Linked DNA regions of Homo sapiens. The protein of the gene in region 1 interacts with the protein of each later gene in a biochemical or structural test. Each region holds a gene or a part of one and is shown in the gene's direction. Other genes may lie near its edges. The genes, in order: LRRK2, CIMIP4, FAM184A, SERF1A, DIDO1, RPS6KB2 and PPP4R3A.

What was found.
Region 2: the proteins of LRRK2 (region 1) and CIMIP4 interact on a protein array, tested with the Homo sapiens proteins (one large-scale study listed by IntAct).
Region 3: the proteins of LRRK2 (region 1) and FAM184A form a complex in vitro, tested with the Homo sapiens proteins (one large-scale study listed by BioGRID and IntAct).
Region 4: the proteins of LRRK2 (region 1) and SERF1A form a complex in vitro, tested with the Homo sapiens proteins (one large-scale study listed by BioGRID).
Region 5: the proteins of LRRK2 (region 1) and DIDO1 form a complex in vitro, tested with the Homo sapiens proteins (one large-scale study listed by BioGRID and IntAct).
Region 6: the proteins of LRRK2 (region 1) and RPS6KB2 form a complex in vitro, tested with the Homo sapiens proteins (one large-scale study listed by BioGRID and IntAct).
Region 7: the proteins of LRRK2 (region 1) and PPP4R3A interact on a protein array, tested with the Homo sapiens proteins (one large-scale study listed by IntAct).

What each region holds. Positions count from the first base shown.
Region 1 is NC_000012.12:40,360,483-40,364,919, forward strand, and holds part of LRRK2 (leucine-rich repeat serine/threonine-protein kinase 2), read left to right. Parts: exon of another isoform or gene 1-2,702; intron 2,703-2,919; coding exon 2,920-3,072; intron 3,073-4,359; coding exon 4,360-4,437. UniProt on the Homo sapiens protein: Serine/threonine-protein kinase which phosphorylates a broad range of proteins involved in multiple processes such as neuronal plasticity, innate immunity, autophagy, and vesicle trafficking.
Region 2 is NC_000022.11:37,004,428-37,009,327, reverse strand, and holds the start of CIMIP4 (ciliary microtubule inner protein 4), read left to right. Parts: upstream 1-1,476; 5' UTR 1,477-1,599; intron 1,600-1,671; exon of another isoform or gene 1,672-1,856; intron 1,857-4,900.
Region 3 is NC_000006.12:118,970,042-118,974,478, reverse strand, and holds part of FAM184A (protein FAM184A), read left to right. Parts: coding exon 1-51; intron 52-4,437.
Region 4 is NC_000005.10:70,903,224-70,906,633, forward strand, and holds part of SERF1A (small EDRK-rich factor 1), read left to right. Parts: intron 1-3,410. UniProt on the Homo sapiens protein: Positive regulator of amyloid protein aggregation and proteotoxicity. Induces conformational changes in amyloid proteins, such as APP, HTT, and SNCA, driving them into compact formations preceding the formation of aggregates.
Region 5 is NC_000020.11:62,916,108-62,920,544, reverse strand, and holds part of DIDO1 (death-inducer obliterator 1), read left to right. Parts: intron 1-4,437. UniProt on the Homo sapiens protein: Putative transcription factor, weakly pro-apoptotic when overexpressed. Tumor suppressor. Required for early embryonic stem cell development.
Region 6 is NC_000011.10:67,426,563-67,431,784, forward strand, and holds the start of RPS6KB2 (ribosomal protein S6 kinase beta-2), read left to right. Parts: upstream 1-1,931; 5' UTR 1,932-1,983; coding exon 1,984-2,061; intron 2,062-2,419; coding exon 2,420-2,460; intron 2,461-2,557; coding exon 2,558-2,678; intron 2,679-2,964; coding exon 2,965-3,033; intron 3,034-4,805; coding exon 4,806-4,953; intron 4,954-5,222. UniProt on the Homo sapiens protein: Phosphorylates specifically ribosomal protein S6. Seems to act downstream of mTOR signaling in response to growth factors and nutrients to promote cell proliferation, cell growth and cell cycle progression in an alternative pathway regulated by MEAK7.
Region 7 is NC_000014.9:91,475,811-91,479,310, reverse strand, and holds part of PPP4R3A (serine/threonine-protein phosphatase 4 regulatory subunit 3A), read left to right. Parts: intron 1-2,324; coding exon 2,325-2,402; intron 2,403-2,786; coding exon 2,787-2,903; intron 2,904-3,344; coding exon 3,345-3,500. UniProt on the Homo sapiens protein: Regulatory subunit of serine/threonine-protein phosphatase 4. May regulate the activity of PPP4C at centrosomal microtubule organizing centers.

The sequences.
Region 1 (4,437 bases):
CCATGGGCCAGACTGCCATCCATTATCTGTGGCCACATTAACAAGAGCATCCAGTTCTCACCCTCTGATTATACTCTCTTCAACATATTTTCAGCATTGCAGACAGAGGGACCTTTCTAAAATGTACATCAATCTGATGCAATTTTCCTGCTTAAAACCCTTCAGTGGTATCCCATTGTCCTTTATATGAAGTCCAAATTCCTTAAGACAGCCTACTGGGCCCTTCATAATTCAGTGCTTGCTTACCTGTCTAGATTCATATTTTGCAAGCTTTTTGCCATCTGTGCTTTACCCAAACTGAAATTGACTCAGATCTCTAAGACAACCTGTTATTACCTTTCACCCCCAACCTTTGAATGTGGTCTTCTCCTTACCTGGATGACTATTATGCCCCCTGCCTATTTCAGTCCAAGCACCACTTGCTCTGAGTGGCAGGTTAGGTGACTTTGTGCTTCCATTGCATCTAATGTTTTCCTTCACAGTAGCTATAATTGTATTTGTTAAAGTAGTTTCTCAATACCACTAAATCTACTGGCTTTCAACATTGGCTGTGCATTTAGAAACCACTAGGTAGCTGAAAATAATATGATACCTGGGCCCTACCTCAGACCAATTAAATCAGACCAGTTAAGCCTGGGATGGGGATCAGATTTTTTTTTTCAGGTTCTCAAGTGATTCTAAAGTATATTTGAGGTTAAGATATACTGCGGAGTGCAGTGTATTATAAGTTCCCATGAATGAGGATTTTTATTTCTGTCTTTACATATTTATTTACTAGTATGTGGTTAACATTTGGATCAACTCATTCTCATTCTGTAATACCCACATTTTAAAAAATGAATGTAAAAATGTCTTTTATTATTTTTATTTTTCAAATTTAATTTTAGATTCCAGGAATACATGTGCAGGTTTGTTACAAAAGTATAGTGCGTGATGCTGAGGTTTGGAATACAACTGAACTCACAACCCAGAAAGTGGGCATAGTGCTTGATAGGTAGTTTTTCATCTTTGCTCCCCTTCCTGTAATTTCCACTTTTAACCCAATTATACAAGCCTGAAAACCTTTAAAAAGAAAGGGCCTCCAGTTTATTTTTTTATTTCATAGCACATTTTATGGGATTATGGATATCAGTTAACTCTTTAAAGTTCCATATAAGATTTGGAGCATAGATGCTTTACTAGAGAGCATCCATAAAGATCAAGCTCTCAAAGATGCTCATCTCCCAAAAGAGATTGGGACCTAGATGCATAAACACTTAAATATAAATATTTGCTCTCTTCTGAACAAGTATCTCCTGTGGCCTTGGTCTCTACCCCACAAAACAGACATCACATCACTAATCAGGGGTTGCCTCATCATCAGTACCCTCATCATCATCAGTACACACCGACTGAGAGGCATGTTGGGTAATGAAAGATGACTGCCTTTGAAGCCGGAAGACTCCATAGGACTTTTGGAGTTCTAGGTCTGCAACATGTTTTTAGTCCTAGGTCGGCAAGCATGATGTTAGTCATAGGACCTTGAGCAAATTATTTAGCATTTGTACATGTTTCTTTCTACTATTAAAAACATTGAGATTTATCATATTTTATGTTTTTTTATTAAGGATCAAGCAAGATAACACACAAAAGTATTTTATAAAATACGGAAATTCCATGCAAAACTTTGTCCTAATTGGAACTATTTTCTATTAAATACAGCAAATATCCAAGAAGGAATTACCTAAAGCGTAGTGGCTCTCTGACAACACATCATATTTTTACCTCCTTTTCCAGAATAGAAAGAAAAGGGGGAGGAAAAAAAATCTTCCTACTCTAGGATATACTAATGATTGTTAAATCTTTATGGTATTTTCATGTTATCTATCTGATTTAAATGCAATTTTGACTATTTTTACATATTCCTCGTTGTTCATTCATACTGTAGTGCCTTCTTCTATTCCCCCACTTAACAGACTGCTTGATTATATCAGAGGTGCTTATCTGTGCAACTGTTTACTGGACGAGGGGTATGTAGAAAATACATTGTCCTCATCCTTATGAAATTACACTCATAATCTAGTGTGAGGGATGCACTAATAAAGACAATTTTATATTTAATAAGGTCTATAATATGACAGTGACACCAGTGGGGAAAAGGGACTGGTTGGTCTATTTTGATAGGTCAGGGAAGAAATCCAGAGGAGCCGACATTTAAGTTCATCCTCAAAGGCCAAGTAGGAGTTTGCCATGCTGATGTGGCCCAAGGTAGCCAATCTGTTTGTGAAATATGTACAATGCCAGATGTCTTAGGTTGAAAGGGAAATATTTTAAGGTGTTCGTAATTTTTCTTTATGTTTAAAAGGGGAAAATGGCAAATATTTTACTTTCTGTTTATGTTTGGATGATGTGGATTTTTGTTTTCTATAATTTGACTGGCTTAACTGCAAAGATATCCCTTGCTTTAAAATTTGAAGACACTGCAACTAAATTTTATTTCAGCATTTTATATTTTATAACTCTAGGTATAAAAGGCTAACACTTAATTTTCTGAGCATTCATGAAACAAAGTTTTGCAAGAACATTCAAAAGTTACAGATATAATATTTCCTTCAGAAATTTAGATATAGTACAAAATTCTACAAAGAGCCACATAGAATTGAAACTAAAAGTAAGACCAAAGTAAACATTGGACATAATCTTTATTTTATTATCACAAGAAATTAATATAAAGTAACCAAAAGTAAGTAAAGTACCAAAGCATGTTATATATTCAATTCAGAATGGTTAGGGAAGAATATGAAATAATTGCAATAGTCTAGCTTGTTTAGTTTTCAAAATAGTGTTTTTACATTAAGAACTAATATAAGGTTGTATTACACGTAGAAATTTTAAGAAGAAAACAAATAGTGATGACTTTCTATTTTTTTTTCTCTGTAGGTTTTCTTATGCAGCTTTCAGTGATTCCAACATCATAACAGTGGTGGTAGACACTGCTCTCTATATTGCTAAGCAAAATAGCCCTGTTGTGGAAGTGTGGGATAAGAAAACTGAAAAACTCTGTGGACTAATAGACTGCGTGCACTTTTTAAGGTAAATTCTGTGGTTTTTAATTTTATTCCCAAAAGAATTATCTTTGCACTTCATGTGTCACAGAGGAAGGATTTTTCTTCCTTTCTGCCTCTGAATAGAGAATTTTTTTAAAATGCAGAAAAAAATTTGTAATGCTTCTCAGCACCATCTTTTCAGATCAAGAAAATTTTGTCTTCAGAACATAAAAGAATAGGCACATAATGTGCATAGTTTTCTCATGGTATTACAAAGAATGTTCTCGAATGAAAATACTACATTATTGAAAATGAGCATATTGGAGTCTCTGCTAGCTTTGACATAGTTCTGTCACAGTGTCAAATATACTATTTATAATTAAATTATGGGCCCCAGGATTATCTGCTCTAAAGAAAAAGAGTCACAAAATAATAGACAAATATGGGGGGAAATGCAATGGACTGACCGAGGCGCTAAGGAGTGGGGATCAAGACCCCAGAATGAGAGCATAGTGCTTAGTCTGATGCAGCCTGTGAGTGACAAATCCATAGCAAGCACATTCTTTCTGTGCTGGTGCTGAGAAACAGGACCATTTTCAAGCTTATTTGCTAGCCACTTTATATTTTTATTTTGTTTTGATTTTACCATATAGATCTATGATACTCTTGAGAACATTTTAGATTACACACTATATCTGTAAAAGGATACTTCAAAGTTTCCTGTCTTAGATTCATCTGACAGTTTTTCTATGGATTGTGAGAAGGGCTCACAGTTTATGTTCAGAAGGGCCAACAGGTCTCCTTGATAAAGGGTTCCTTACTTCCTGAAGTACCAAAACGATTAGGATTCTTTTATTTCTGGACACTTCATTTTTGTCATGAATTAGACTATTCACTGGTTCTGGGAAAAAATTCAGTGGTTTGTATCGATATCTTTTACATGTGAATGACTATAATTTTATGTTCCTTTGTAACATTGAGACTTCATGTAAAACTTTTGACTCTAACTTTTTTTTTTCTTTATCCTGGGCACATGTATGCTATTTTTACTGAATTAGATAGCTTTGGTATTTATAAAAATTGTATCCCTCTTATTCATAATTTCCTGAAAATGAAGGGCTATTGTTATCTTTGATAATTTATGCTTCAAGTAAAGAAGTGTGGCTCTTTGGCATCTGTATTTAGCAAAATTTGCTTTGTATAATTTTAATGATGCATAATGGTGGTGGTGTCATGTTTTAATAATTTAAAATGTTGTTTATGTTATCATATGTAAATAGCATTTATCTCTTAATTGGTGGTAAAATTATTAATGTATACTTTATGGTTCTAGGGAGGTAATGGTAAAAGAAAACAAGGAATCAAAACACAAAATGTCTTATTCTGGGAGAGTGAAAACCCTCTGCCTTCA
Region 2 (4,900 bases), on another chromosome or scaffold:
ATGGATGCCACTTCTGTGACTATGGTACACAACATTGTAATGCCCCATCTTGCAAGGGGACTCCCTCTTTGCTGGCTTTGATGAAGTCAGTGTCATGTTGGTGTTGGGGGGCCCACATAGCAAGGAACTGAGGATGGCCTCTGGCTGACAGCCAGAGAGAGCCTGAGACCCTCAGTCTAACAGACTGCAAGGAACTGAATCCTCCCACAGCCACATGAGCTTGGAAGCATATTCTTCCCTAGTGGAACCTCAGATGAGACTGCAGCCCTGGCCAATACTTGGATTGTAGCCTGCTAAGACCCCAATGCAGAGAACTCAGCTAAGCCATGAGTAGACACCCGACCCAAAGAAACTGTGAGATAACAGTTGTATGTTAAGCTTCGAAGTTTATGGCAAGATTGTCGTGCAGCAATAGATAATACTTAGGCAAGAGATGAGGGTGGCTTGGACCAGGGAGTAGGGGGAGTTGTGGAGGTGGACGAAGGCATCCAAATCTAGTGTACTTCGAAGGACTTGCTGATGGGTTGCTTGCGGAAGTAGCTTAGAGTTTTGTGATGTCTCTCTCTGTGCAAGGCAATGTGCTACATTTTGCAAAAAATTGTTTTATTCGCCCATCACCCTTATCCTTAGTGTTGGGTGATATCTGTTTCACATGTGAAGGAAGTTCAGCTAAAGGACTTGGCCAGTCTCTTATCTAATAAGTGACAGGCCCAGATTCTGGGGACTCCAAGTTTAACCACAGCACTCTCTGTTTCCTGGGGAAATCCTGAAAGGCTGGGCTTGCAGGAGGCGTTCACTATACCCACTCTTTGTCCAGGCTGAGCAACAGCCAGACAGGAATGGGCCAGTGCTGGCACCAATGACTTCTGCCTCCTTCTTCTCTGCAGAAAAGAAGTCACTTAATTTTGTTGATCTCCTTCTGTAGCCCTTGTTGTTTAGGAATAGGAGAGAGGACCCTTCCTTTAGTTTTACTCCCAGGTCCCTGATCCCTGGGTGTCCAAATCAGACAGCTCCAGATGCATCTTTCTCCTTCCCCATTGACCTCGACCTACATTTATGCTGTTATACACATCCATGCCTTTAATATTCTCATCCCTTCAAAACTGTTAAGTTCCTAGGCATCCTTCAAGATCCAACTCAAATGGCTCTTTCATAAGTCCTTCCTCCTTTTTCCTACACAGAGCTAGTTCTTCTCCCTACTTAGTGCTTTGAGCTCCCAAGAACATCTTTTGCACTTGGTAGCATCTGAGCCCCCTGTGCCTGGCACACCTGGCATGTAGTGGGGGCTCAACTGACATTCTAGAGTGGATGAGAGAGTGAACAATAATTGAAGCCCCTCCTGCCTTTTCCTGGCCTCAATCCTGGCTTTCTCCTGGCCTCTTTTCCCTACGGGTGGGCCTATCAGCCCTCTGAGGTAACAGAGCCCTGTGTATAGTGATCACCATGGCAACTCCAATGAACATCTTGGGGAGGGCCACTTCCCAGCAACCATCCATTGGTCTTCACCAGTAGTTCTGCAGTGGGGATCTGCACTTCTGGGCTTCAGCACACATCAGTGTGGTTCACGTGTTTCCTGCTGTTATGAAAGAGATTGGAGAGGTGAGGCAGAGACTTATGAAGGGCCAGGGTTCTTCCAGGACATGGGGTTTCATCTTCCTTCTCCCCATTCAGAGTTGCTTGTGAGTGAAGACTGCCTAGACTGGACTTACCTTCCCGCCCTCTTTGACCAAAGTCTCTTGGGATCTCTCTCTCTGGGTCAGAAACTGGAAGTGAGTCCACACTTCCATTGTAGCCCGTCCAGACTGCTGTGGACTGGCAGTGCACTGGGACGTACAGAGCTGCCGTGGGCACGTCAGGTTGGTGGCTGGGGATAGGAGGAGAAAGAAAACTTGGAGCTAACTTGAACTTCACCTAGCTTGAAGATGTGCAATTTAATTTTAGCCCCACCTGGTGAAGTCCTGTGTCTTTTCGGAGCCTCATTTTCTCCATCTGTGAAAGAAGATAAATTAGTAGTGTCTCCGAACACCTTACTGGGTATTTGTGAAGACCAGACTAATTTACCAGATGTGAGAATGCTTGACATGGACTTGTGTTAGTTATCTCTTGCTGCACAACAAATCACCCCAAAACTTAGTGGGCTTAAGACAACATTTACTATCTCACAGTTTCTGTGAGTTGGGAATACCGGTGGAGTGTTGGTGATTTTTCTGTCCCAGGGTCTCTCACAGGCTGCAATCAAGGTGTTGCTTGGGTCTCTAGTCTCATCTCAAAGCTCGACCAGAGAAGGAACCCATTCACATGGCAGGATCCAGCTACTCTGGAGCTGTTGGCAAGAGGCCACTCTGAGTTCCTTGCCCTGTGGACCTCTCCATAGGGCATCTCACAACAGGGAAACTGGCTTCTGTCAGAGAAGATGAGCTGAGGAGAGCTGCAGAGAGTGTGTGAAAAAGACAGAAGTTGTAGTCTCTTATAAGTTCATCATGGATGCAACATCCCTCATTTTTGCCACATTCCATTCATCACTATGTCCAGTCCACACCAAAGGGGAGAGAATTATACCAAGAAACAGGGATCATTGGGAGCCATGTCAACTGCCTGCCACTCTCTGCCCTCTGGCCCCCAATAATGTACATCCCTTCCACATGCAAAATATAGTCATCCCCTCCTAAGATCTTTAAAATTCTCATCCTATTAAAGCATCAGTTTAAAAGCTAGAATCTGGTCATATAAATCAGCTCCAGGTGTGGCTGAGGCTCCTCCAGTGTCGTTCCTTAAGTACAGCTTCTCAGATTCAATTCTTCCCCATCATAGATCTGTGAAACTAAGTAATTTGCCCTGAACACACCTAACATACAGTGATGTGATAGGCATAGGATAAGAACTAGTGACATTCCTATTCAAAATTGAGGAAAATGGAGACATGGAGTCAATGTTCCATAGCGGTTTTGAAATCCAGCCACACAAATGTTGGACATTCCTTGATTAGGTTTCAAGGCCTGGGGATAATTCTCCATGGCTCTCAGCTCTGCCTTCTGGACTCTTGCATCCACTCTCTGACTTGTCTTTTTTATTTTTATTTTTTGTTCAATGGTATCTTTTCATTTTGTACTGTCTCTATCCCTTTTACCCGAAGTTGCCAACATTTTGCTGATGTTATTTTCTCAACAGTAAAACTTACAGGGGTTCACTCCATTGAACAAAAGTCACACCCCTTTTTAACTGAGGCTCCTGTTGAGGAGCCTTAAGCTTCCTAGAGGTCCTATGGTTCTGTTAAGAGGATATATCAGGCATCTCTTTAATCTCTTTAAAGCACCCTTTGTTTGACAGAGTAATACCCTCATCCTTTGATCTTTCTGAAGTTTTAACAACAGGTCGCACAGTCACACTCCTGGGCACACTTTCCAGACAGCCTTCTGAAGCTATTTCTTAATTTTAGCATCTTTTGGGATCTGGAAAGGATGAGACTTCAGAACCATTAAGTACTGGCATCTTTTTGTTTAACAGTCCCTTCTTCAATTCATCACCTTCCTCTCACATTTCACTACAAGCAGCAAGAAGAAAGTAAGAGGCAACTACCATCTTTTCTTTGGAACTCTTTAGCTAAATCATTCAGTTCATTAGTCACATAACTGCAGATGACAGTGTCACTGTTTCTGCCACTACATAACAAGGGTCTTTCTTCCACTATTTCTAGTAATATATTCCTCACTTCCATTTGGGCCCTCACTCACTGCATCTTCCAACTCCAGATTTCTGCTTAAAAAAAAAAAAAAACTGTTTAAGGTGATTTAGGCTTTTTCTATCATGCTTCTCAAAATCCTTATAGACTCTGACCACCGCTTGGTTCCAAGTTCAGTCCCAAATTTTTAAGTATTTGTTATAGCAACACCCCACTGTTAGTACCAAAATATGTATTAGCTATGTATTGCTGCGTAACAAATGACCATAAAGCTTAGAAGTTTGACACTGTATGTTTAAAACAGTACAAATTTATGATCTCAGAACTTATAGGAGTCAGGATGCTCACTTGGCTGGGTCCTCTGGCCCAGGGTATCCCACAGGCTGTAATGAAAGTGTCATCCAGGCTGTGTTCTCATATCAAGGCTCAACTGGGGAAGGATCCACTTTCAAGCTCATTCAGGTGTCAGGATTCATTCAGTTCTTCAAAGACTGTTGGACTCAGGGCTTCTATTCTTTATGAGCTTTTGGCCAGAAGTCACCCTCAGTTTCTTGCTCCATGGGCTGCTCCACAGGGCAGCTCAAAACACGGCATTTGCTGTCATCAGAATGAGCAAACCAAGGAGAACCAGGGAAAGAGAGCAAACAAAACCGAAGTCACAGGCCGGGCACGGTGGCTCACACCTGTAATCCCAGCACTTTGGGAGGCTGAGGCGGGTGGATCACTTGAGGCCAGGAGTTAGAGATCAGCCTGGCCAACATGGTGAAACCCTGTCTCTACTAAAAATACAAAAATTAGCCAGATGTGGTGGTGCACACCTGTAATCCCAGCTACTCAGGAGGCTGAGGTGGGAGAATTGCTTGAACTTGGGAGGTGGAGGTTGCAGTGAGCTGAGATTGCACTACTGTACTCCAGCCTGGGTGACAGAGTAAGACCCTGTCTCAAAAAAAAAAAAGAAAGATCACATAAGAAAACAAAACACAAGCACGAAAGCTGCAGAGGCTTTTGAATCTACCCCTCTAATTTGAATCCAAGGCCTTAGAGAGAAGACTGAGTTTACACCAGAGCAAAGTGTGGGTTCCTGCTCTTGGTTCTCCTTCGTGGTGGCTAAGCTGCTTCCCTTCCCTGAGCACGAACGACCATTCAGCAAATGGATACAATCCTATTTGCAGGAAGACAAATGGTTGCCAGGATGGGAGCCGGGGCAATGGGCTTCACAGC
Region 3 (4,437 bases), on another chromosome or scaffold:
TAATAAGACTAACGAGCTACTCAAGGAAATAAATGCCGCTTTACAAGTGTCGTAAGTCATATTATATAAGAAAATTCATATGTGGATAATAAATTTAGGAGCACTGTGTTTAACCTCAGATTAGCTGTTATTTTGACTCTAATAAAAAGGATACTTTAAAAAGAAAATTTTAGTGCTGTGTTACAGATGGTAATTGCAGTGCTATATGTTCTTTAATTAGGATGAGGCAGTTGAATGATGATGTTTTATCAACTAAGACTGCACCAGTTCTGCTAGAACAGTAATCTAAAGAATGTTCCTTAGGATCATGAACTATCATGCCATGGTGAAAACTGAAAATATGGCTATATATAATGTTAAGTAAAAAGAATATATAGTGAACAATAGGAATACTATGATCCTATATACACACTAATAATGTATATTTTACCAAAATATCAAAATATCTTAACAAATACCAAATTTTAATGGTAATGGTTCCCTCAAGAGAATGGATTAGGAGGTACTGGAGATGAGAAAGAGCAATTCTTTCTTTTTATTTTATATACTCCACTTACATATTGTTTAAATTCCTACAAGAAGCATCTAATTGTCTTATGATTTTAAAAATCAATAAAGGGGAAAACATTACAAATAAAGTTACCGCTCATACATAGTAACTACAGTATTGTTAAAACCAAAGTTTCTAATTCTTATTTAATGTTCTTTGGAAACATTTAATAACCCTTCCTTTCCTAGATGCTTGTAAACTGATGTAGCTAATGCAGTTTGTACTCAGTCCATCTCTGTGGCCTAAACCCTGGTCCAACATAAGTTATTTCAGAATTAATCTACTCTAAGCTGCTGCTAGTAGTTTATTCACCTTTAGTCTCTCCTCTTCCAATCAAATATATATATATCCACATACTTCAGTAAAGTCACAATTAGTGACTAATCCCATTATCCTTCATGTCAAAGTCAAATGTAAACTTAACAGCTCCAATGTGCCTTATTCTACATCATCCAACAGCAACCCTTATTTCTTATTCTGTCTTTTTATCAGCCTAGTGGACCTTCTTGGTTTCCTGTGTTGTCCTCTACAGTCTAGAATAACCTCCTGTGTTGTTGCCGTTTTAAGTATTGTCCTCAAATCTAAAAATTATCTTCTTTTATTTGATTTATGTGACCAATTCAATCTTTCGGTAAAGATTGTTACATACATAGGCAACACCACAACACACACATACAGACGCACACATGCACACACATGTATTCACTTAAGCCACAGCAGAAAACAGGTCCCCAGTTGTTATTTACTTGAGTATGCTGTGAGATGAGGTGCTCTTTCTGATGGGCATATTCAGAATCGTTACATTAGTTAAGCACTCAGTGAATGTTTCATGAATGAATTTTATGATTCTTTCTCCATCATATTTACCACTTTTTGAAGTTGCCTTTGAAATGGTGAGGAAACTTGTGTTACTTCCCTGGTCACTCTGAGTTTGGTGTTTGCTGTTATTAGAGGTGATTTTTAAATCCTTTTGGGCCAAGTATGAGCTCAGGTATCTGCCTTGTATAACAGCTCATAACCCCATACTTTTGCAGAAATGATTTACAATAGACCTCAATTCCTTGGCTGTCCTTTTTCCTGGCCTCAGTGGTACTCCTCAGACAGAGACTGAAATCTTGGCATCCCCCACTTCATGCTCCGAAAAAACATAGTCACAGAAAGAATAACGTCAGTCTGTCTGTGTGTCCTGTCTCCTTAGGAATGTTAATTTACAAAGAGTAAAGGTTGTGTCCTTGTTTTTCCTTTATTCTGTTGCATATGGTTTTGCACATTATGAATCTTCAGTAGGTAGCAAATAACTTAGTTTTTGATTTTATGATCATTTTTAATAATCAAAGAATTAGTATTTGCTTTTAAGTAAACTACCTGCTTTTCTAGACTCTCCTTTCATTTTAATGCTTCCACTTGGGTCCATGCTAACCAATTATGTTTCTTTTTTCACCAGAAACTTACTGCCACCAGGTAATTACCCCCTAGCTTTAGGTGTTTACTCCTTTAGTTAAAAACAAACACACACCAAATTTATATTTGACCAACACTGTCCAATAGATTGTGATAATGAAAATGTTTTGTATCTGCTTTGTCCAGGTTAGTAGCTTCTAGCTAAAAATGGCTCTTGAATGCTTGAACGGTGATTAGCATAACTGAGGAGCTGAATTTATAAATTTCATTTAATTTTAATTAATTTAAATGTAAATAGCCATATGCAGACTAATGGCTACAATGTTGGAAAACATAGTTTTAGACAATTGGTTGTTTCTGTTTCATATCCTTAAATGCAGCCTGCTTGGATCTGCTGAATGGTTTGGATTTAGACAGGTAGTGAGCAGGGAGAGTTGGTTCCAACTTATGGAGCTGTGGGAAACAGTATCTGTACTGTTCCCAAGGACTAGGGGATTCTATTGAAGTTCCTAATCAGCTGCACCCTGGCTTTAAAACTTTGAAATCAGAAGAGTCCTGTGGATTCCTGGAAGGCAGTGGTGCTGGGGGCTGAAGGGACATGGTGCAGCCTGACAGGCCACAGCCTGCCACTGAGGAAGCTTGGGGGCAGAGGCAGCTTCTTGCTTCTGCTCCTGCCCCAAATCCTGTTGAACTCCCTTCCTGGAGAGAGAAGGGTGGGGCAACACATGTAAAGGATGGGAAATACCCTCTAAGTCTGTAAGTATTGTAGAAGTGGTGATGAGTTCTATATTGCTTATGGATGATGATTATTACAAATCCGCTTTGGTGCTGGAAGTTAAAGTTTTAGATTTTTCAGAGAGTTCTATAGAAATTTTATTTTTCAGTGATATAGTAGTAAAAACTTTATATCTAATAAAAATGTCCTGATTCTGGTTTCTTTTAGAAACAAATGAGAAAATGGGCTGTTTGATTTTTTTTTATCTGAATGATTTACTCTGTAAGTAAAGAAAGTTCAAGCTAAATGAAAACATTCTCTACAACTTGAGGTCATGGCCGATTTTTAATATGCAAAAAGATGGTTCTGAGATTACTGATTGTTTAGGTTTATTTCACAAAAGATGATTTCTTCTTGAGAGAAATGTTGAGTTTCTATACTTAGATTTTAAATAGATCAGTAATCCCCAATTGAAAAGAAGCACTCCGCCACACCTGAATTACTAATTTTTTGTTTAAGTTTTGAGTCCTTTCATCTATAATACCCAAATAACTTTTGTTTTTGTTGTCATTTGATTTTTAATTTACCATTCAGGTATGGTTGTAAGCTTTGTGAGGTACGGAAGTAGTCTTGTCACAAATCAGAGTCTGTGCGTAATTTATGGGAAAAGAAAGGTTCAGCGTTAAAGTGCTTCAATTGCTATATTTCCTTTATTTAAGAGTTTAGAAAATGATGATATAGGAGTTTTTTCATCTTTATAAAATCAAAGTTATAGGATATATGTGTGCATAATATACTATTGTTTGGTTATGAAACAATAGTATACCATTTTTGGTTCTAAAATTCACTGATTTTATTTTTTTATCCTTTTCTTTTTCTTAACAAGACTATAACTTGGAAACTTTGTATACAGCTTTTTAGGCATTTGTAATTTAGGCCTGTTGTCCATGAATCACAGACATTGACCTGTATATTGTCAGAGCCAAAGAAAGCAGGGCATGCATGCCTGGTGAGAATCCATCAGTGGCCCTAATTAGTAATTTTATATGTTCTACTTCTCCTTTCTCCTTTTTTCCCCCTTTCTCTTCTCTCTTCTATTACTTTTAATGGAAATCTGTAAAATTTGAGTAAAAGGCTACACTTGTGTGGTATTCTCAAGGCGGCATTTCCCAGGCTTTAATCATCCTTGGGATGATCATATACATCCTTGGGAATTGGGTCATTTCTGGCTACGTATATTATTTTCTTAATATTTTTAATTGACTTATTTTAACTTAAATATTTAATAGGAAAACTTGATATCACTACAGTAGAACATTTATCACTACTGAAAAATTTTATCCTTTATTCTAAATAAAAGCTAAGCTATAATTATATGAATGTAAATTTTGTGAAAATAAAACAATGTTATTAGATTCTAGCTAGCATTTATGCTGAAGTCCTGCCTGAGTGTTGTGAAATAGAGTAATGAACATAAGTTATGAAGGCAATTTAAGATATACAGACCCGGCTGGGCACAGTGGCTCATGCCTGTAATCCCAGCACTTCTGGGAGGCCGAGGCAGGCGGATCACCTGAGGTCAGGAGTTTGAGACCAGCCTGACCAACATGGTAAAACCCCGTCTCTACTAAAAATACAAAAATTAGCCGAGTGTGGTGGCAGACACTTGTAATCCCAGCTACTTGGGAGACTGAGGCAGGAGAATCGCCTGGACCCGGGAGGTGGAGGTTGCAGGTAACTGAGATTGTGCCATTGCACTCCAGCCTGGGTG
Region 4 (3,410 bases), on another chromosome or scaffold:
TTAGGGGTTCTCAATCCTGGCTGCACATTAGAATCACCTGGGAAACCTTGACAGCTACTCAAGCCTTGCGTTATGCTCAGTTTTGATTTTTTGTTTTTTTAAAAAATTGAATTACAATAGTTGTACATATTTTGGGGGTACATGTGATCTTTTAATACCTGTATGTGGGCTGGGTAGTCCCAGCCACTTGGGAGGCTAAGGCAGGAGAATCACTTGAACCTGGGAGGCGGAGGTTGCAGTGAGCCGAGATCCTGCCATTGCATTCCAGCCTGGGTGACAGAGTGAGACCCTGTCTCAAAAAAACAACAACAAAAAGAAACTGGCTTGGCGTGGTGGCTCATACCTGTTAGCCCAGCACTTTGGGAGGCCGAAGCGGGTGGATTACCTGAGGTTGGGAGCTCAAGACCATTCTGACCAACATGGAGAAACCCCATCTCTACTAAAAATACAAAATTAGCCAAGTGTGTGGCCGGGCGCGGTGGTTCACGCCTGTAACCCCAGCACTTTGGGAGGCCCAGGCGGGCGGATCACGAGGTCAGGAGATCGAGACCATCCTGGTTAACACGGTGAAACCCCGTCTCTACTAATAATACAAAACTTAGCCGGGCGAGGTGGCAGGCGCCTGTAGTCCCAGCTATTTGGGAGGCTGAGGCAGGAGAATGGCGTGAACCCGGGAGGCGGAGCTTGCAGCGAGCCGAGATCGTGCCACTGCCCTCCAGCCTGGGTGACAGAGCGAGACTCCGTCTCAAAAAAAAAAAAAGCCAACTGTGGTGGCGAACACCTGTAATCCTAGCTACTCGGCAGGCTGAGACAGGAGAATCACTTGAACCTGGGAGGCGGAGGTTGCGGTGAGCTGAGATCTCGCCATTGCACTCCAGCCTGGACAACAAGAGTGAAACTCCGGCCGGGCGCGATGGCTCATGCCTGTAATCCCAGCACTTTGGGAGGCCAAGGCAGGAAGATCACGAGGTCAGGAGATCGAGACCACGGTGAATCCCTGTCCGTACTAAAAATACAAAAAATTAGTCGGGCGCAGTGGCGGGCGCCTGTAGTCCCAGCTACTCGGGAGGCTGAGGCAGGAGACTGGCGTGAACCCGGGAGGCGGAGCTTGCAGTGAGCTGAGATCGCGCCACCGCACTCCAGCCTGGGCGACAGAGCGAGGCTCCGTCAAAAAAAAAAAACCTTTATGTGTACAATGTGTAATGATCAAATCGGGGTAATTGGGATATCTCTATGCTCAAACATTTAACTTTCATCCAGTTCTGATTTAATTGGTCAGAGGTCGAGCATTAAAAAGCACCCTAGGTAAATTTTACTGTACTTAGGTTATGCCTTTTTTTTTTTTTAAAGGCAGAGTCTTACTCTGTTGCCCATGCTGGAGTGCAGTGGCGTGATCTCGGCTCACTGCAACCTCCACCTCCTGGGCTTAAGCGATTCTCCTGCGTCAGCAATCCAAGTAGCTGGAATTGCAGGCGCCCGCCACCATGCCCAGCTAATTTTTGTATTTTTAGTAGAGACTGGGTTTCACCGTGTTGGCCAGGCTGGTCTCAAACTACTGACCTCAAGTGATCCACCCGCCTCGGCCTCCCAAAGTGCTGGGATTACAGGCGTGAGCCACCACGCTGGCCCAGTTATACCTTTTTTTTTTTTTTTTGAATTTTTTTTTTATTATTACGCTTTAAGTTCTAGGGTATATATGCACAACGTGCAGGTTTGTTACATAGATATACATGTGCCATGTTGGTTTGCTGCACCCATCAACTCATCATTTACATTAGGTATTTCTCCTGATGCTATCCCTCCCCCAGCCTCCCAGCACACCCAGTTATACCTTAAACTGAACTTAAAACAGCTCCCAGGTGATTCTAATGTGCAGCCACTATTAAGAGTCATTGATAAATGAGATTAAAGACCTTAATTTACGGCAAAGGTCCTGACACCTTTTTTTTTTTTTTTCCCAGATATGGCGTCTTACTCTGTGACCCAGACTGGAGTGCAGTGCCACAGTCTCGGTTCACTGCAAGCTCTGCCTCCCAGGCTCAAGTGACCCTCCCACCTCAGCCTTCTGAGTAGCTGGGACTACAAGGGCACACCACCAAGCCCAGATAGTTTTTATATTTTTTGTAGAAACGGGGTTTCATCATGTTGTCCAGGCAGGTCTTGAACTTCTGGGGTCAAGTGATTTGCCCACCTCAGTCCCCCAAAGTGCTGGAATTACAGGTGTGAGCCACTATGCCCGGCCCTAACATTTATTATTAAAGTGATAAGCTTTGTCTTCAATTTCTGTTGACTCACATTAGAGTAAAAATGAACATGGTATGAATCAGTGACCCTGCAATAGTATTTTTATTGGAGAACCTAGTCTAGCTTGGTTCAGAAATTGTCATTGTTTACCAGATATGCACTCCTTATAAAATTCTATGCTAGACATTCTATATACATTATTCTTTATTCATCATAACTCTGAAAAATGGTATTAGCACTAATCTGTAGAATAGGAAACTGAGGCTCTGAACTTCAGTAACATTACTAAAGTTACACAGCAAGCACAACAGAGCTTGGTTTCAAATAGAGAAGTAACTGTCATGGTTCTTTTTCCACTGTACTTCATTTCTTTATAGCTATGTTTTTGTTTTTGTTTTAGTGAAAGCAAGTTTATTAGGAAAGTAAAGAAATAAATATTGGCTACTTTATAGGCAGAACAGCCTGTAGCTGTGTTATTTTGCCTTTCTTCTTTATTTTTATTTTATTTTATTTTATGTTTTTGAGACGGAGTTTCGCTCTTGTTGCCCAGGCGGAGTACAATGGCGCAATCTCAGCTCACCGCAACCTCCACCTCTCGGGTGCAAGTGATTCTCCTGCCTCAGCCTCCCAAGTAGCTGGGATTACAGGCATGCACCACCATGCCTGGCTAATTTTGTATTTTTAGTAGAGATAGGGTTTCTCCATGTTGCTCAGTCTGGTCTCAAACTCTCGACCTCAGGTGGTCCGCCTATCTCAGCCTCCCAAAGTGCTGGGGTTACAGATGTGAGCCACTGGCCTATTTTGCCTTTCTTCTATTCCCTTGTTTTTGCTATTGGCTTTACAGAAATATCTTACCATCATGGCTGTGGAAATCAGTTTAGCATTTCCTCAAAAAGTTAAAACAGGCCAGGCTCAGTGGCTTACACTTGTAAATCCAGCACTTTGGGAGGCCGAGGCGAGCGGATCAACTTGAGGCCAGGAGTTCGAGACAAGCCTGGCCAACATGGTGAAACCCTGTCTCTACTAAAAATACAAAAATTAGGTGGGCTTGGTTGCACATGCCTGTAATCCCAGCTACTTGGGAAACTGAGGCAGGAGACTCGCTTGAACCAGGGAGGTGGAGGTTGCAGTGAGCAAAGATTGTGCCACTGCACTGCAGCCTGGGC
Region 5 (4,437 bases), on another chromosome or scaffold:
TGTCTTTGAACAATTTTTAGTGGCTCAACCATGTGCTTGCCCCTTGGGGCAAGTGTGGAATCAATCTGATGCGCTGTCACCGGTAAAGCTGTTCCAGTACACACCTCTCCCTCAAAGTGCCCTACACAGCCCCTTGCTGAATCCTTTGCAGCAGTGAAAATCGGGGGTTGGGGGGAGGCAAGAGTAGGCTGTGCTTGGGGCCATGGAATTATGCAGGTCTCTAAGGGTGTGGACCGAGGAGAACATAAAGGAACAGTGATTTAAACCTGTAATAAACAGATGCCCTTGAGGGGAAGCAGCCCCCACAGTACCCTGCTGGGATGACCTCCCGCAGCGCACCCCACTCACATGGTACCCGGGGAGCTCACACTGCCACACTTGCGGCATGAGGTGGATTTCTTCATGGGGATAAGAACCTGTGCATTGTGGTCCTCACCAGGGCCCAAGTGGTAATCTTTTATTAAGAGCAACAGGAATCCTGGTATGTAGAATTGGGACCGTATCTTAAGTGTTTGAAACCATACTTTCTTTTTTACTGAGACAAGAGGAGTCCATCAAAGGTAGTGGTTTAGGAGACTTTATGTCCAGCCATTAAATAGAGAACAATAAACCTCACTTCTCCTTCACCTCGATAAATGATTTTATGTGACTGTTTCTGGTTCCTGGCATTCATTTGGAGAGTTGAAATTTCCCACCTGAGTTGCCCACCAAGGTCACCAGCCTGTGTTTTGCACTAGGAAGTAGATAGAGGGAAATGGCAGGATTGTTGCAAGCTCACATGGGGAGCTTGGCGGCCCGGCTGTAGCCGGGGGCTGGCCAAAGCATTAGTCCTCAGCAGGTTTTTCAGTAACAAGTTTTGCTTTTTGTCTCCGCGTATCTATAAAAACACAAATACCCAAGAAATGTAAAACAACAATAGGTTGTTTCTGGATTTTTCTCTACATTTTCTTTGTGAGAAACATACTGTGTTGTGGCACCCTTGCTGCTTTTTTTTTTTCTTCTTTGAGAGGGAGTTTTGCTCTTGTTGCCCAGGCTGGAGTACAGTGGCACGATCTCAGCTCACTGCAACCTCCGCTTCCCGGGTTTAAGTGATTCTCCTGCCTCAGCCTCCCAAGTAGCTGGGACTACAGGCACCTGCCACCAAGCCCTGCTAATTTTTGTGTTTTTAGTAGAGATGGGGATTTCACCATGTTGGCCAGGCTGGTCTCAAACTCCTGACCTCAGGTGATCCACCTGCCTCAGCCTCCCGAAGTGCAGGCATGAGCCACCGCACCCGGCCCAGAATAATTTTTGTAATGACGGTATTATTTGGTAAGCAGCAAAACTTTGAATTTGCCGTCTGAAGGATTTAAATGTAATCTATGCAATTGAGTCAGATTCTGCATAGATACTAAAGTAAATGAAAGTTGGGCTTCTTCAGTTCCTTGTGGGCCCAAATCTCTTTCCTGTTTGGTGAGTGCAGCACAGTGTTTCCTGCCGCAAGCTGGTGGAGCTTTGAGTGGGCCATCATGGTACATGAACGGCTGCTGCTGGTGGCTGGAGAACACGTCGCATTTGGGGATGTCATCTGAAGTTTCTAGGCATATTCTCCTAGTGACTGTCGCATTAATGAAAACTGAGCTATCAAGAGTCTTTCATTGGGTAATCTTTCCTTCATTTGTGGTAGTTTAAAGATCTTTTACCTAGTGTCTTCTCAGTTGCTCCTCATCTGCATAATAAACAGATTGATGAGCCAGGAGACCCTTAATAGGCAAAATATAAATAAATGTAAACTTTGGCCTACCCTGTCAGAATTAGCGAAAATAATGAAGTTTAGAATAGTGAGGTTTTATTGTAGCATTATAATTTCTGACTGGCGGGTTAAAATTGTTTTGAATATTGTTTCAGGGGAATGTGAGGTTTGAAGAAACAGAATGTTTGCCACTAGGTGAGGTAAACTATGCATTTTTGTTTTATCTTTTTGCTTAGAAGTCAGAGCTCTTTTCCTGGAGGTGCGATGTTATGAAAATAGAAACTTAATTATGGTTGTATGTCATATTTTAAAGTGTCTTGGAGATTAATTACTCAGAAACTAGTCTCAAGTTTTTGGAACTGAAAATCTTTAGGTGGGAGCTGGGCACTGTGGCTCACGCCAGTGGTGTCCCAGCTACTCAGGTTGAGGCAGAAGGATCGTTTGAACCTATGAGGTAGAGGCTGCAGTGAGCCCTGATCATGCAGCTGTACCACAACCTGGAAGTGGGCACGCTTGAGTTAATGACTTCAAGCAGATTTTAGAGTAGTAAAAGTTGAGCATACAGATTTGCAGTGGTTGCAAACCCATGCATTGTAATAGTTGCAGTTAGGCTTTTTAAAGTAACAGAGCTGACCTTTTGGGAAGATATTTTTATTTGGTTTTTAAGAAATTTCACTTTTGGCTGCTTACTGTTTTGGTGAGTTGGGGAATCTGAGGGAAGATTAACAGGTAGTTACAGAACCCTTGTGGAAGGAAATGTTTAAAGTCTCTTCTGATGTCTGAAGCATAGGTATGTATTACTGCTTTGCACATATCCAGTGTACTCCTAAACTGGTAGAAATGGCATGTTGCCACAGTTCTTTGTGTTTCATGGACTCCTGAGGGGGAAGTCCTTGAAGCCCTTTCTGGGGCTAAGAGGTAAAGATGACTTCTGCATAATAATAGTCTAATAGTACAGGCCTTTTCTGGTGAGTTTGACATTTGCATCGGTGGCACAGGGCAGATTGGAGCCCTCTTCAGCACCGTGCATGGGCACCGAATGTTTAGAATATGCCAATTTTCCCAAATAATGTCCCTGATGATGCAGTAAATATTAATTTTTTTCGGAACCCGCAAACATACATCTTTTTTACTTTCGCTGTGATTAAATGTCAAGTTATATATAAAGCTTCTGCTGCATCCCCACGTGGTACTGTCCACGCACAGCCCTAGGGGATTGAGCTGGGAGCCGAGTGGTCTCGGAAACGCTGTCTGTCCCTGACAGAACAACAGACGGAGGACAGTTTTCAGACTCAGCATGTGGCAGGCGTTTTGTCCAAAACGAGTGATGTCTCAAAGAAAAAACGAACAGTATTTGTTGCTAAGGATAAAATTTGAGCTTTGGGGTGAAAATTGGAATTTTAGAAAACTTGTATCTGCCATTGTAAACCTGATGGCTTTCTAGTAATTAAAGTCTTCTTGGAGATTGGACCCGACATTATCGGCCAGGTGAGGTGACTCACACTTGTAATCCCAGCACTTTGGAAGGCGGAGGTGGGTAGATCACTTGATCCCAGGAGTTTGAGACCAGCTTGGGCAACATAGTAAGACCCTGTCTCTACAAAAAAAAATGCAAAAATTACCTGGGCATGGTGGCATGCACCTGTAGTCCCAGCTACTGGGGAGGGTGAGGTGGGAAGACCGCTTTGAGCCTGGCGGTGGTGTGGGTGGGGGAGGTGCTGAGGCTGCAGTGATCCTTGATTGCACCACTGCACTCCATCCTGGGCAACAGGAAAAAAAATGTTTGTTTTATGCTATCCGATGAGATGTGTGGACATTGAGAATCTGTCTGTTACTTGAACCCGTGTCATCCAGGTGAACAGCATGCACATGGGTCCAGAGTGCAAGGACGTGTTCAGAGTGAACACAGCAGTCAGTTTTCATGAAAGAAAGGGAGAAGTTCCTTGACAAAGGCTGCAAATTCTGTTTCAGCTAACTTTTATGAAACTGCTCCTTGGCGAGAGTTGGTGTAGTATCAGTGAACATCCAGTTATGTGAAGATGGTTACAATACTCCATTCTAAAGACCTATCTGTGTGAGGCAAGATTTTGATGACATGTTTTAGCTGAAACACTCTATGGGAACAGATTGAGGGCAGAAGTAGACATGAACATGGAGCTGTCTTCGGTTATGCCAGAAATTTGCAAAAATGTACAACAGGGCCACTCTTCCTGTTCATTTTTGTTTGTTTTAGAAATAACTTTCATTTAAAGATACTATTAATGTATTAATAGGTTTATTTTTAATACATACTTAGAATTTTGAAAATAGCAATACATTCCACATAAACAAAAGCTCTTTGGTGTTCTCAACTTGTAAAAGTGTCTTGAGACAAAAGGTTTGAGAGCCGCCATTCAAGCATTTGGAAGTCAGTGTGTGTCCTCTGCTTGAATCGCCGCTCATCAGCTGCTTCTAGTCAATAGAAAATGAAGCAGTTTTCAGCTGGGGAAAAAAATGTGCTTAGAAATGTGGAAATATTAAATTTGGTACATTCTGTTTTAACCTGTAGTTTGTTCACTTCCCAGCTTCAAGGATACCCACATTTTTCTTTCTGGGGAAAAGTTGTTACTGATACAATATGGTTGCAGTTTTATGAACACATTCCCCCTGTGATGGGCTGTGTAGTGTGTAGAATTACACACTAATTATACACACAAAAAGTTGTG
Region 6 (5,222 bases), on another chromosome or scaffold:
CACTCCCGGCTAATTTTTGTATTTTTAGTAGAGACAGGTTTTCACTATGTTGGTTAAGCTGGTCTTGAACTCCTGACCTCAAGTGATCCACCCGCCTTGGCCTCCCAAATTGCTGGGATCGCAGGCATGAGCGACCCTGCCTGGCCTAAGTTCATTCTGTCAACAGCGTTTTTGGTTTTTGCTGGGTGTAGTGGCTCATGCCTGTAATCACAGCACTTTGGAAGGCCAAGGCAGGAGGATCACTTGAGTCCAGAAGTTCAAGACCAGCCTCCTGGGCAACAAAACAAGACCTCCCCTCTAAAAAAAAAAAAAAAGAAAGAAAGAAAGAAAAGAAAAAAGATTATGTGATTATGTCATTCCAGTTACTTGGGATTTGAGGTGGGAGAATCACTGGAACCCAAGAAGTCAAGGCTGCAATGAGCCACGATCTTGCCACTGTACTCCAGCCTGGGTGACAGAGTAAGATCCTGTCTGAAAAACTAAACAAAACAAAGAAAAAAAAACCATAAAGTTTTTTTTTTTTTTTTTTTTTTTTTTTTTTTTTTTTTTAAGATGGAGTCTCGCTCTTGTTGCCCAGGCTGGAGTACAATGGCATGATCTTGGCTCACCGCAACCTCCGCTTCCCAGGTTCAAGTGATTCGCCTGCCTCAGCCTTCCCGAGTAGCTGGGATTACAAGCATGCACCACCATGCCCAGCTAATTTTGTGTTTTTAGTAGAGACGGGGTTTCTCCATGTTGGTCAGGCTGGTCCTGAACTCCCGACCTCAGGTGATCCGCCTGGCTCGGCCTCCCAAAGTGCTGGGATTACAGGTGTGAGCCACCGTGACCAGCCAGGTTTTCGGGTTTTATCTGTTTGAGACTTGGTCTCACTCTGCCGCCCAGCCTGGAGCGCAGTGGTGCAATCTTGGCTCACTGCAACCTCTATCGCCCGAGTTCAAGCGATTCTCCTGCCTCAACCTCCCGAGTATCTGGGAGTACAGGTGCGCGCCACCACACCCGTCTAATTTTTTGTATTTATAGTAGAGGCAGAGTTTCATCATGTTGGCCAGGCTGGTCTCCAACTTCTGACCTCAAGTGATCCACCCACCTCGGCCTCCGAAAGTGTTGAGATTACAGGTGTGAGCCACCGCCTCCGGCCTGTTTGTTTTTTTGAGACAGGATCTCACTGTGTCACCCAGCCTGGAGTGCAGTGGCACCATCATAGCTCACTGTAACCTTGAACTCCTGGCCTCAAGTGATCCTCCCAACTTGGCTTCCCAAAGTGCTACGATTACAGGCGTGAGGCATCGTGTCCGGCCTCAACAACGTTTTTTGAAGTGTCTATTCTGTACCAGGTGCCTAAATGTGCTTAAATTAAGAAGGGAGTAAACGCCAACAAAATCCCATATTTACAGGTCTATCACTGACCCCCAAAACCCTATTTAAGGCGGGAACCTGGCAACATAGCCTGGCAGTGAGCTGGCCACTCAGTAAATGCTCCGATTTGCAGGGTCCTCGAGCCAGAGGCACTTTGAGGAGACCCTGATGCAGCCGCCTCCCTTTCTGGAGTGAACCGAAAGCAACGCGACCTGCCTTTCATCACGCAGCCGGCCTGGCAGTACCCGTCTCCAACAGGGCTGGGGATTGCATTTACATTCACACCTGCATACACTTCCGACCCTGCTCCATCCAAACTCAAAACACCGTAGAACCAAAACGGGCTCCCAGAAAGCCTTGCTGGGAAGACCGAGGGTCCTGCGGAAAGGATTCTGCAGGCTGAAGGCTAGGCGCCTCGCCACTCTAGGACTACAATTCCCGAGAGGCCTTGCGACGGAAGCCATCTTTGTTCCCCACCAGGCTAAGCGATTTTCCGGAGGGGGAGTAAGATCCCTTGCGTCACCGGCGCGCGCAGCTGCCGTCGCGGAGAGATGATGTTTAGGTCCGGGACTGTCAGTCAGTGCGCGGCCAGGTACGGGCCGACGGGCCCGCGGGGCCGGCGCCGCCATGGCGGCCGTGTTTGATTTGGATTTGGAGACGGAGGAAGGCAGCGAGGGCGAGGGCGAGCCAGAGCTCAGCCCCGCGGTGAGTGCCCTGCCCTGGCGCGACTGGATCCTGGAGCCGATCCTGTCACCCAGCCGAGGCCGGAGCGGCGGCTCCGCACGCCCAGAGCGGGCTCCGACTCTTTGCAGACCCAGATCCTTCTCAGATCCCGGTCTCTATTAAGTTCTGATCCCACCCTCACCCCGACCTCTCTTCCAGAACCCCAGCCTTTTCTCCCGATTCTCCCTTTCCTGCCTTCGGTTTCTTCCCAATTCTTACCCATCCCCTACTAGCTGCCATCCCTGACACCCTTCTCTCCTGGGCCACGCAGTCCAACCTGAACGGGAGCGGGGAGGTATCCTGGCACCTTCCTTGGCTCTTACCCCTCGGTTTCTCACAGGACGCATGTCCCCTTGCCGAGTTGAGGGCAGCTGGCCTAGAGTGAGTGAGGGTCGTGTTGGGGGAGGGGGGAATGGAGTGGGGAAGGGGAACTGGGGAGCACTGGAGCCTTGTCCTCATTAACTCCTTGTGTCCGTAGGCCTGTGGGACACTATGAAGAGGTGGAGCTGACTGAGACCAGCGTGAACGTTGGCCCAGAGCGCATCGGGCCCCACTGCTTTGAGCTGCTGCGTGTGCTGGGCAAGGGGGGCTATGGCAAGGTAGGGGCGGGCGCACCCTCCTCCTGGCCTCACAGCCTCCATCTGGAGGCAGCAAAGGGTTCTCAAAACAAATTAGACTTGTGAATCAGCAGGGCCTCTAATGGGATTCAGAGCCAGAAACATAAAGGAGGGAAGGCCAAATCCTCTCCAATCGGACTTGAAATCTTCACTGCCCCACCCTTGGCAGGGCCTAGGCCTCCTGATCCCAAAGCCAGAGCTTCAGGGTGGGGCTTCTTGAAGATAGGATGTGGAGAGGGAAGTTGATCCTGTCTCCCCTGCCCTACAGGTGTTCCAGGTGCGAAAGGTGCAAGGCACCAACTTGGGCAAAATATATGCCATGAAAGTCCTAAGGAAGGTGAGTCACTCGTTCAGCCAACGAATACTGTGTGGCTGCCATTCCCAACATGCTGTACCAGGCTTTGGGAAGACAGCAGGGAACACAGTGGAGGAGGATCCCTGACTTTGGCGTTTGCTGGTTTATTGTCTGTTGTGATGTGTATTGTCTTGCAGTAATTCTCAATGGGGGCAATTTTGACTCCCAGCAGACATTTGACAACAGTGTCTGGACACTATTTTATTTTATTTTTTTTTAAGACGGAGTCTTGCTCTGTCACCCAGGCTGGAGTGCAGTGACGCGATTTTGGCTCACTGCCACCTCTGTCTCCCAGGTTCAAGCGATTCTCGTGCCTTAGACTCCGGAGTAGCTGGGATTACAGGCGCTTGCCACCACACCCAGCTAATTTTTGTACTTTTTTGTAGAGGTGGGGTTTCGCCTGGCTGGTCTCTAACTCCTAATCTCAGGTGATCTGCCCGCCTTGGCCTCCAACGTGCTGGGAGCTGGGATTACAGGCATGAGCCACCGTCCCTAGCTTTTTTTTTTTTTTGGATGGAGTCTTGCTTTGTTCCCCAGACTGGAGTGCAGTAGTGCACTCTCTGCTCACTGCAACCTCTGCCTCCCGGGTTCAGGTAATTCTCTTACCTCAGCCTCCTGAGTAGTTGGGACTACAGGCTTGTGCCACCACACCTGGCTAATCTTTGTATTTCTATTTGTTTACCTACTTATTTTGAGACGGAGTCTCACTCTGTCACTCAGGCTGGAGTGCAGTGGTGCGATCTCGGCTCACTGGCAACCTCCACCTCCCAGGGTGAAGTGATTCTCCTGCCTCAGCCTCCTGAGTAGCTGGGATTACAGGCGTGAACCACCACTCCTGGCTAATTTTTTTTTTTTGTATTTTTAGTAGAGATGGGTTTTTGTCATGTTGGTCAGGCTGGTCTTGAACTCCTGACCTCAGGCTATCCGCTCACCTTGGCCTCCCAAAGTGCTGGGATTACAGCCATGAACCACCGTGCCTGGCCTAGTTTTTGTACTTTTTAGTGGAGGCAGGGTTTCACCATGTTGGTCAGGCTGGTCTCGAACTCCTGACCTCAGGTGATTCGCCTGCCTCAACCTCCCAAAGTGCTGGGATTACAGGTGTGATCCACTGCGCCTGGCATGGACACATTTTTGATTGTCAAGGCAAGAGGGGAGTGTTACTGGCACCCGGTGGGTGGAGACCAGGGATGCTGCTGAACATCCCACGATGCGCAGGGCAGCCTCCCACAACAAAGAATGACCTGGTCCCAGGTGTCAGTAGTGCCGAGGTTGAGAAACCCTGTGTTAGAGGATAAACCCATCCCTGAAAATGATGGTGGCTGACAGCAGCAGAATTATGGAGAAATACAATGCAGTGACAGAGGATGCAGCAGTTAACAAACAGATGGATGGTCTGAGGAGCTCTGGTTGCCCCCATTTTTTTTTTTTTTTTTTTTTTGAGATAGTGTCTCGCTCTGTCACCCAGGCTGGAGTGCAGTGGCGTGATCTCAGCTCACTGCAACCTCTGCCCCTGGGTTCAAGCGATTCTCCTGCCTCAGCCTCCTGAGCTGGGATTACAGGCGTGTACCATCATACCCAGCTAATTTTTCTATTTTTAGTAGAGATGGGGTTTCACCATGTTGGCCAGGCTGGTCTCAAATTCCTGACCTCAGGTAATCCGCCTGCCTTGGCCTCCTAGAGTGCTGGGATTACAGGTGTGAGCCACTGTGCCCAGCCTGGATGCCTCAGTTTCTAACCAATTCCTGTATCTCCAGGCCAAAATTGTGCGCAATGCCAAGGACACAGCACACACACGGGCTGAGCGGAACATTCTAGAGTCAGTGAAGCACCCCTTTATTGTGGAACTGGCCTATGCCTTCCAGACTGGTGGCAAACTCTACCTCATCCTTGAGTGCCTCAGTGGTATGAGTGCGGGCCCAGGCAGGGGTGCTGGGGGTCGCGGGGGGGCAGCGAGCCAGCAAAGGAAGCTCTGGGGGGAAGCTCTTGAGAGATGAGTCTGTGGGGGTTGGCTAGGGGGCCCCCACTCTGTCCTACCCATCCATCCATCCATCCGTGCATCCGTCCCATCATTCATTCATTCAGCAAACGTCTGTCCAGCACCTACTGTGTCCCTCACGTGTGTTGGGGGTGGATGGGCATGGTGCGAATTTGGATAGAAGTCCAGAGGATGG
Region 7 (3,500 bases), on another chromosome or scaffold:
CACACACACACACACACGTTGTTTTTTATTCTTTGATGCCTGTGGTATTGTAAGAATAATAGGTCTTTGGGAGACTGAGGTGGGTGGATCACTTGAGGTCGGGAGTTCGAGACCAGCCTGACCAACATGGCAAAACCTCGTCTCTACTAAAACTACAAAAATTAGCCAGGCGTGATGGTGGACACCTGTAATCCCAGCTGCTCAGGAGAATGAGGCAGGAGAATCGCTTGAATCCAGGAGGCAGAGGCACATGCCTGTAATCCCAGTTACTCCAGAGGCTGAGACAGGAGAATCATTTGCACCTGGTAGGCAGAGGTTGCATTGAGCCAAGGTCGCACCGCTGCAGATAAGTGTAATATGACTTGGAAGATCTTTTAAGACTTTACCTCAGGTGTATAAGTAAAATTTATTTGAAACCTGAATTTGTTAAGTATAGAAAGGAAGACAATAAATGTAGTAAGAGCTGCCTGGTAGCACACATTACATATAAAGCAGTATGTTTAATCATGTCTGTTCCTGTTTAGAAAATTTTGTATTTCTAAAATATTAGCCAGTGATAGGCAAAAAAAGGAAAAGTATGAACTAAAATACTGAGTTCTCCTGATCCTTTTCTTTAGCTCCATATGGTTCTGTTTTTGTTATGTGGGGATTTGTCACTTCTGTGTTTTCTTGGTCTTCATACATGTAAAATGCCAGTTTTATTCATTAAGTATGAATAATTTCAAGTTGTTAAATCTTTGCTTCCCTGTAATGTGCTTTGTAAAATACTGGCTGCCAATATGTCTGTTTCTCTTGATGCTGGACACTTCTATCCAAAGTGCTGCTGTGAAGGCTGTAGCATTTTACAAATGTTTTGGCAAGAAGTGATTGAGGTACAGTTTAATGCAGGTTCCTGCCCACTTTGTATAGCCCCATGCACACAAAATAAATATCACACCCTCTTAACATTGACTGCTTCCTTTGTAGTACCATAAACATTCTTATTTTCTCTATTTCTGTACCCCCAACTGCAGCAGTTCAGAGAATGTCTTTTTTAACCATTTGATACCCATTTGGTAGAATATAGTATATTGGAGATGTGTCTTGAAATTGGATGCCATTTGGGTAGCAAACATGGTCAAGATCATATTAATGAGGTATGACCTATTTGTTCATTTTAGAAAAAGTAAAGGTGAGAATAACCAAACTAACTTAGTGCCACAGAAGATTTTTCTGGAGCACTCACAACAGTGAATGTGGAGCCAGTAATCTAGTGGGAGCTTGTATATACATCCATGTGTATGTGTATTTAGAGTGAGGCATGTCTAGGGCTTAAGTGGTATTGAATCTACTTCCACTAGCTGAGGTAGTAATTAAAATCTTGGTCGAGCATGGTGGTTCATGTGCGTAATCCCAGCACTTCAGGAGGCCCAGGCCAGTGGATTGCTTGAGGCCACGAGTTCAAGACCAGACTGGCCAACATGACAAAACCCCATCTCTGCTACAAGTACAAAAATTAGCTGGGTGTAGTGGTGTGTGCCTGTAGTCCCAGCTGCTAAGGAGACTGAGACAGGAGAATTGCTTTAACCTGGGAGGCGGAGGTTGCAGTGAGCCGAGATGGCACCACTGTGCTCTACCTGGGTGACAGAGCAAGACTCTGTCTCAAAAAGCAAAACAAAACAAAAGCCAAGATCTTGATGAAAAAATAGTGATGAGAAACATTGACCGGACAATCATGAAGGCTCTGCCACCTTAATTGGGCTTGGGTAAATTTTAAAATCCAAGTCTCAATTATAAAATGAGGAAGTAAAACAAAAAGTTCTAAATTTTGCTTTTTAAATAATTGAGTCATTCTCTGTATCTTTAAAACACTAAAGTAGCTTTGTCTTCATTTTCATTCTCATTTGAGAGGTTGTAGAACTACCTTTTAAAAGTTAATAAGGTTATAAAACCTATGAAAGTGAGGGGTCAGCAAGTGTTGGTCCTGCTATTTTTGTAAGTAATATTTTATTGAAATACAGCCATATCCATTCATTTCCAGTTGTCTGTGACTACTTTCATATTACTGGAGCAGGGTTGAGTACTCGTAGTAGAGATCACATGGGCCGCAAAGCTCAAAATATTTACTACCTGGCCTTTATATAGGCTTAGAAAATAGAGCCTTGACAAAATTTTATACTTTAATAGTGTGGTTTTTCCTTCTGTTAAAAAAAAAAAAAAAGACAGCATTGCCAATACCACCTTTCCTTTTTATAGTTATTGCTGTGTATATTAAAGCATTCCTGAAATTATATTTTAGGACAATCTTAGCATTAACATAATTGCATTTGTCCTTTGTTTCACAGGAAGATGAAAAATTTCTGACAGATTTGTTTGCACAACTAACAGATGAAGCAACAGATGAGGAAAAAAGACAGGAATTGGTAAGAAATTAGATACTATGAAAGGCATAAAAATAAAACAACTGGCCGGGCTTGGTGGCTCACGCCTGTAAATCCCAGCACTTTGGGAGGCCGAGGTGGGTGGATCACGAGGTCAGAAGTTTGAGACCAGCCTGGCGAACATGGCGAAACCCCATCTCTACTAAAAAGTACAAAAATTAGCCAAGCATGGTGGCGGGCACCTGTAATCCTAGCTACTCAGAAGGCTGAGGCAGGAGAATCGCTTGAACTCGGGAGGTGGAGGTTGCAGTGAGCCAAGATCGTGCCATTGCACTCCAGCGTCGGCAACAAGAGCAAGACTCCGTCTCAATAAATAAATAAATAAAATAAACTTTTTATATCACTTATCCTTTTTTCTAATTTCAGGTTAACTTTTTAAAAGAATTTTGTGCGTTTTCCCAAACGCTACAGCCTCAAAACAGAGATGCTTTTTTCAAGACTTTGTCAAACATGGGCATATTACCAGCTTTAGAAGTCATCCTTGTAAGTTTTGTGTCTCCTCATTTTTAATTACCATTTTTTAATCCCAAAATTAATATTTTTAATGCTACATGCAAATATTCTATTATAGCCAATATTTGAAATTAGCTGCGTAGTTCATTAAGTTAAAGAAGCTGTAAAATTCCAATATTAGACAGTTTTCACACAGTATTGAAAGAATGCAGTAAAGGAATTTCCCATAATTTAATGATAGTTTGTCAGCTTTGCAGCTTATTAGCTGAAATGTTAAAATAGGCAAACAAATAAATGATTTAGAAAGTATAATTTTATCCGTACAATAAGAGTTTTATATGCAGAAGAATTTCTTTGACCTTTCTTTTACATTGAAGTTTTTTCATATGTTTTGTTAGGTTTGGATATTTACATAGCTATAGGTTCCGTATTTTTATAAATACAGGAAAAATAAATGTTTTTTGTCTGCAGGGCATGGATGATACACAGGTGCGAAGTGCTGCTACTGATATATTCTCATACTTGGTTGAATATAATCCATCCATGGTACGAGAGTTTGTCATGCAGGAGGCACAACAGAATGATGATGTAAGTAAGAAGTTAACAGAGCAAAAAATAACCAGCAAG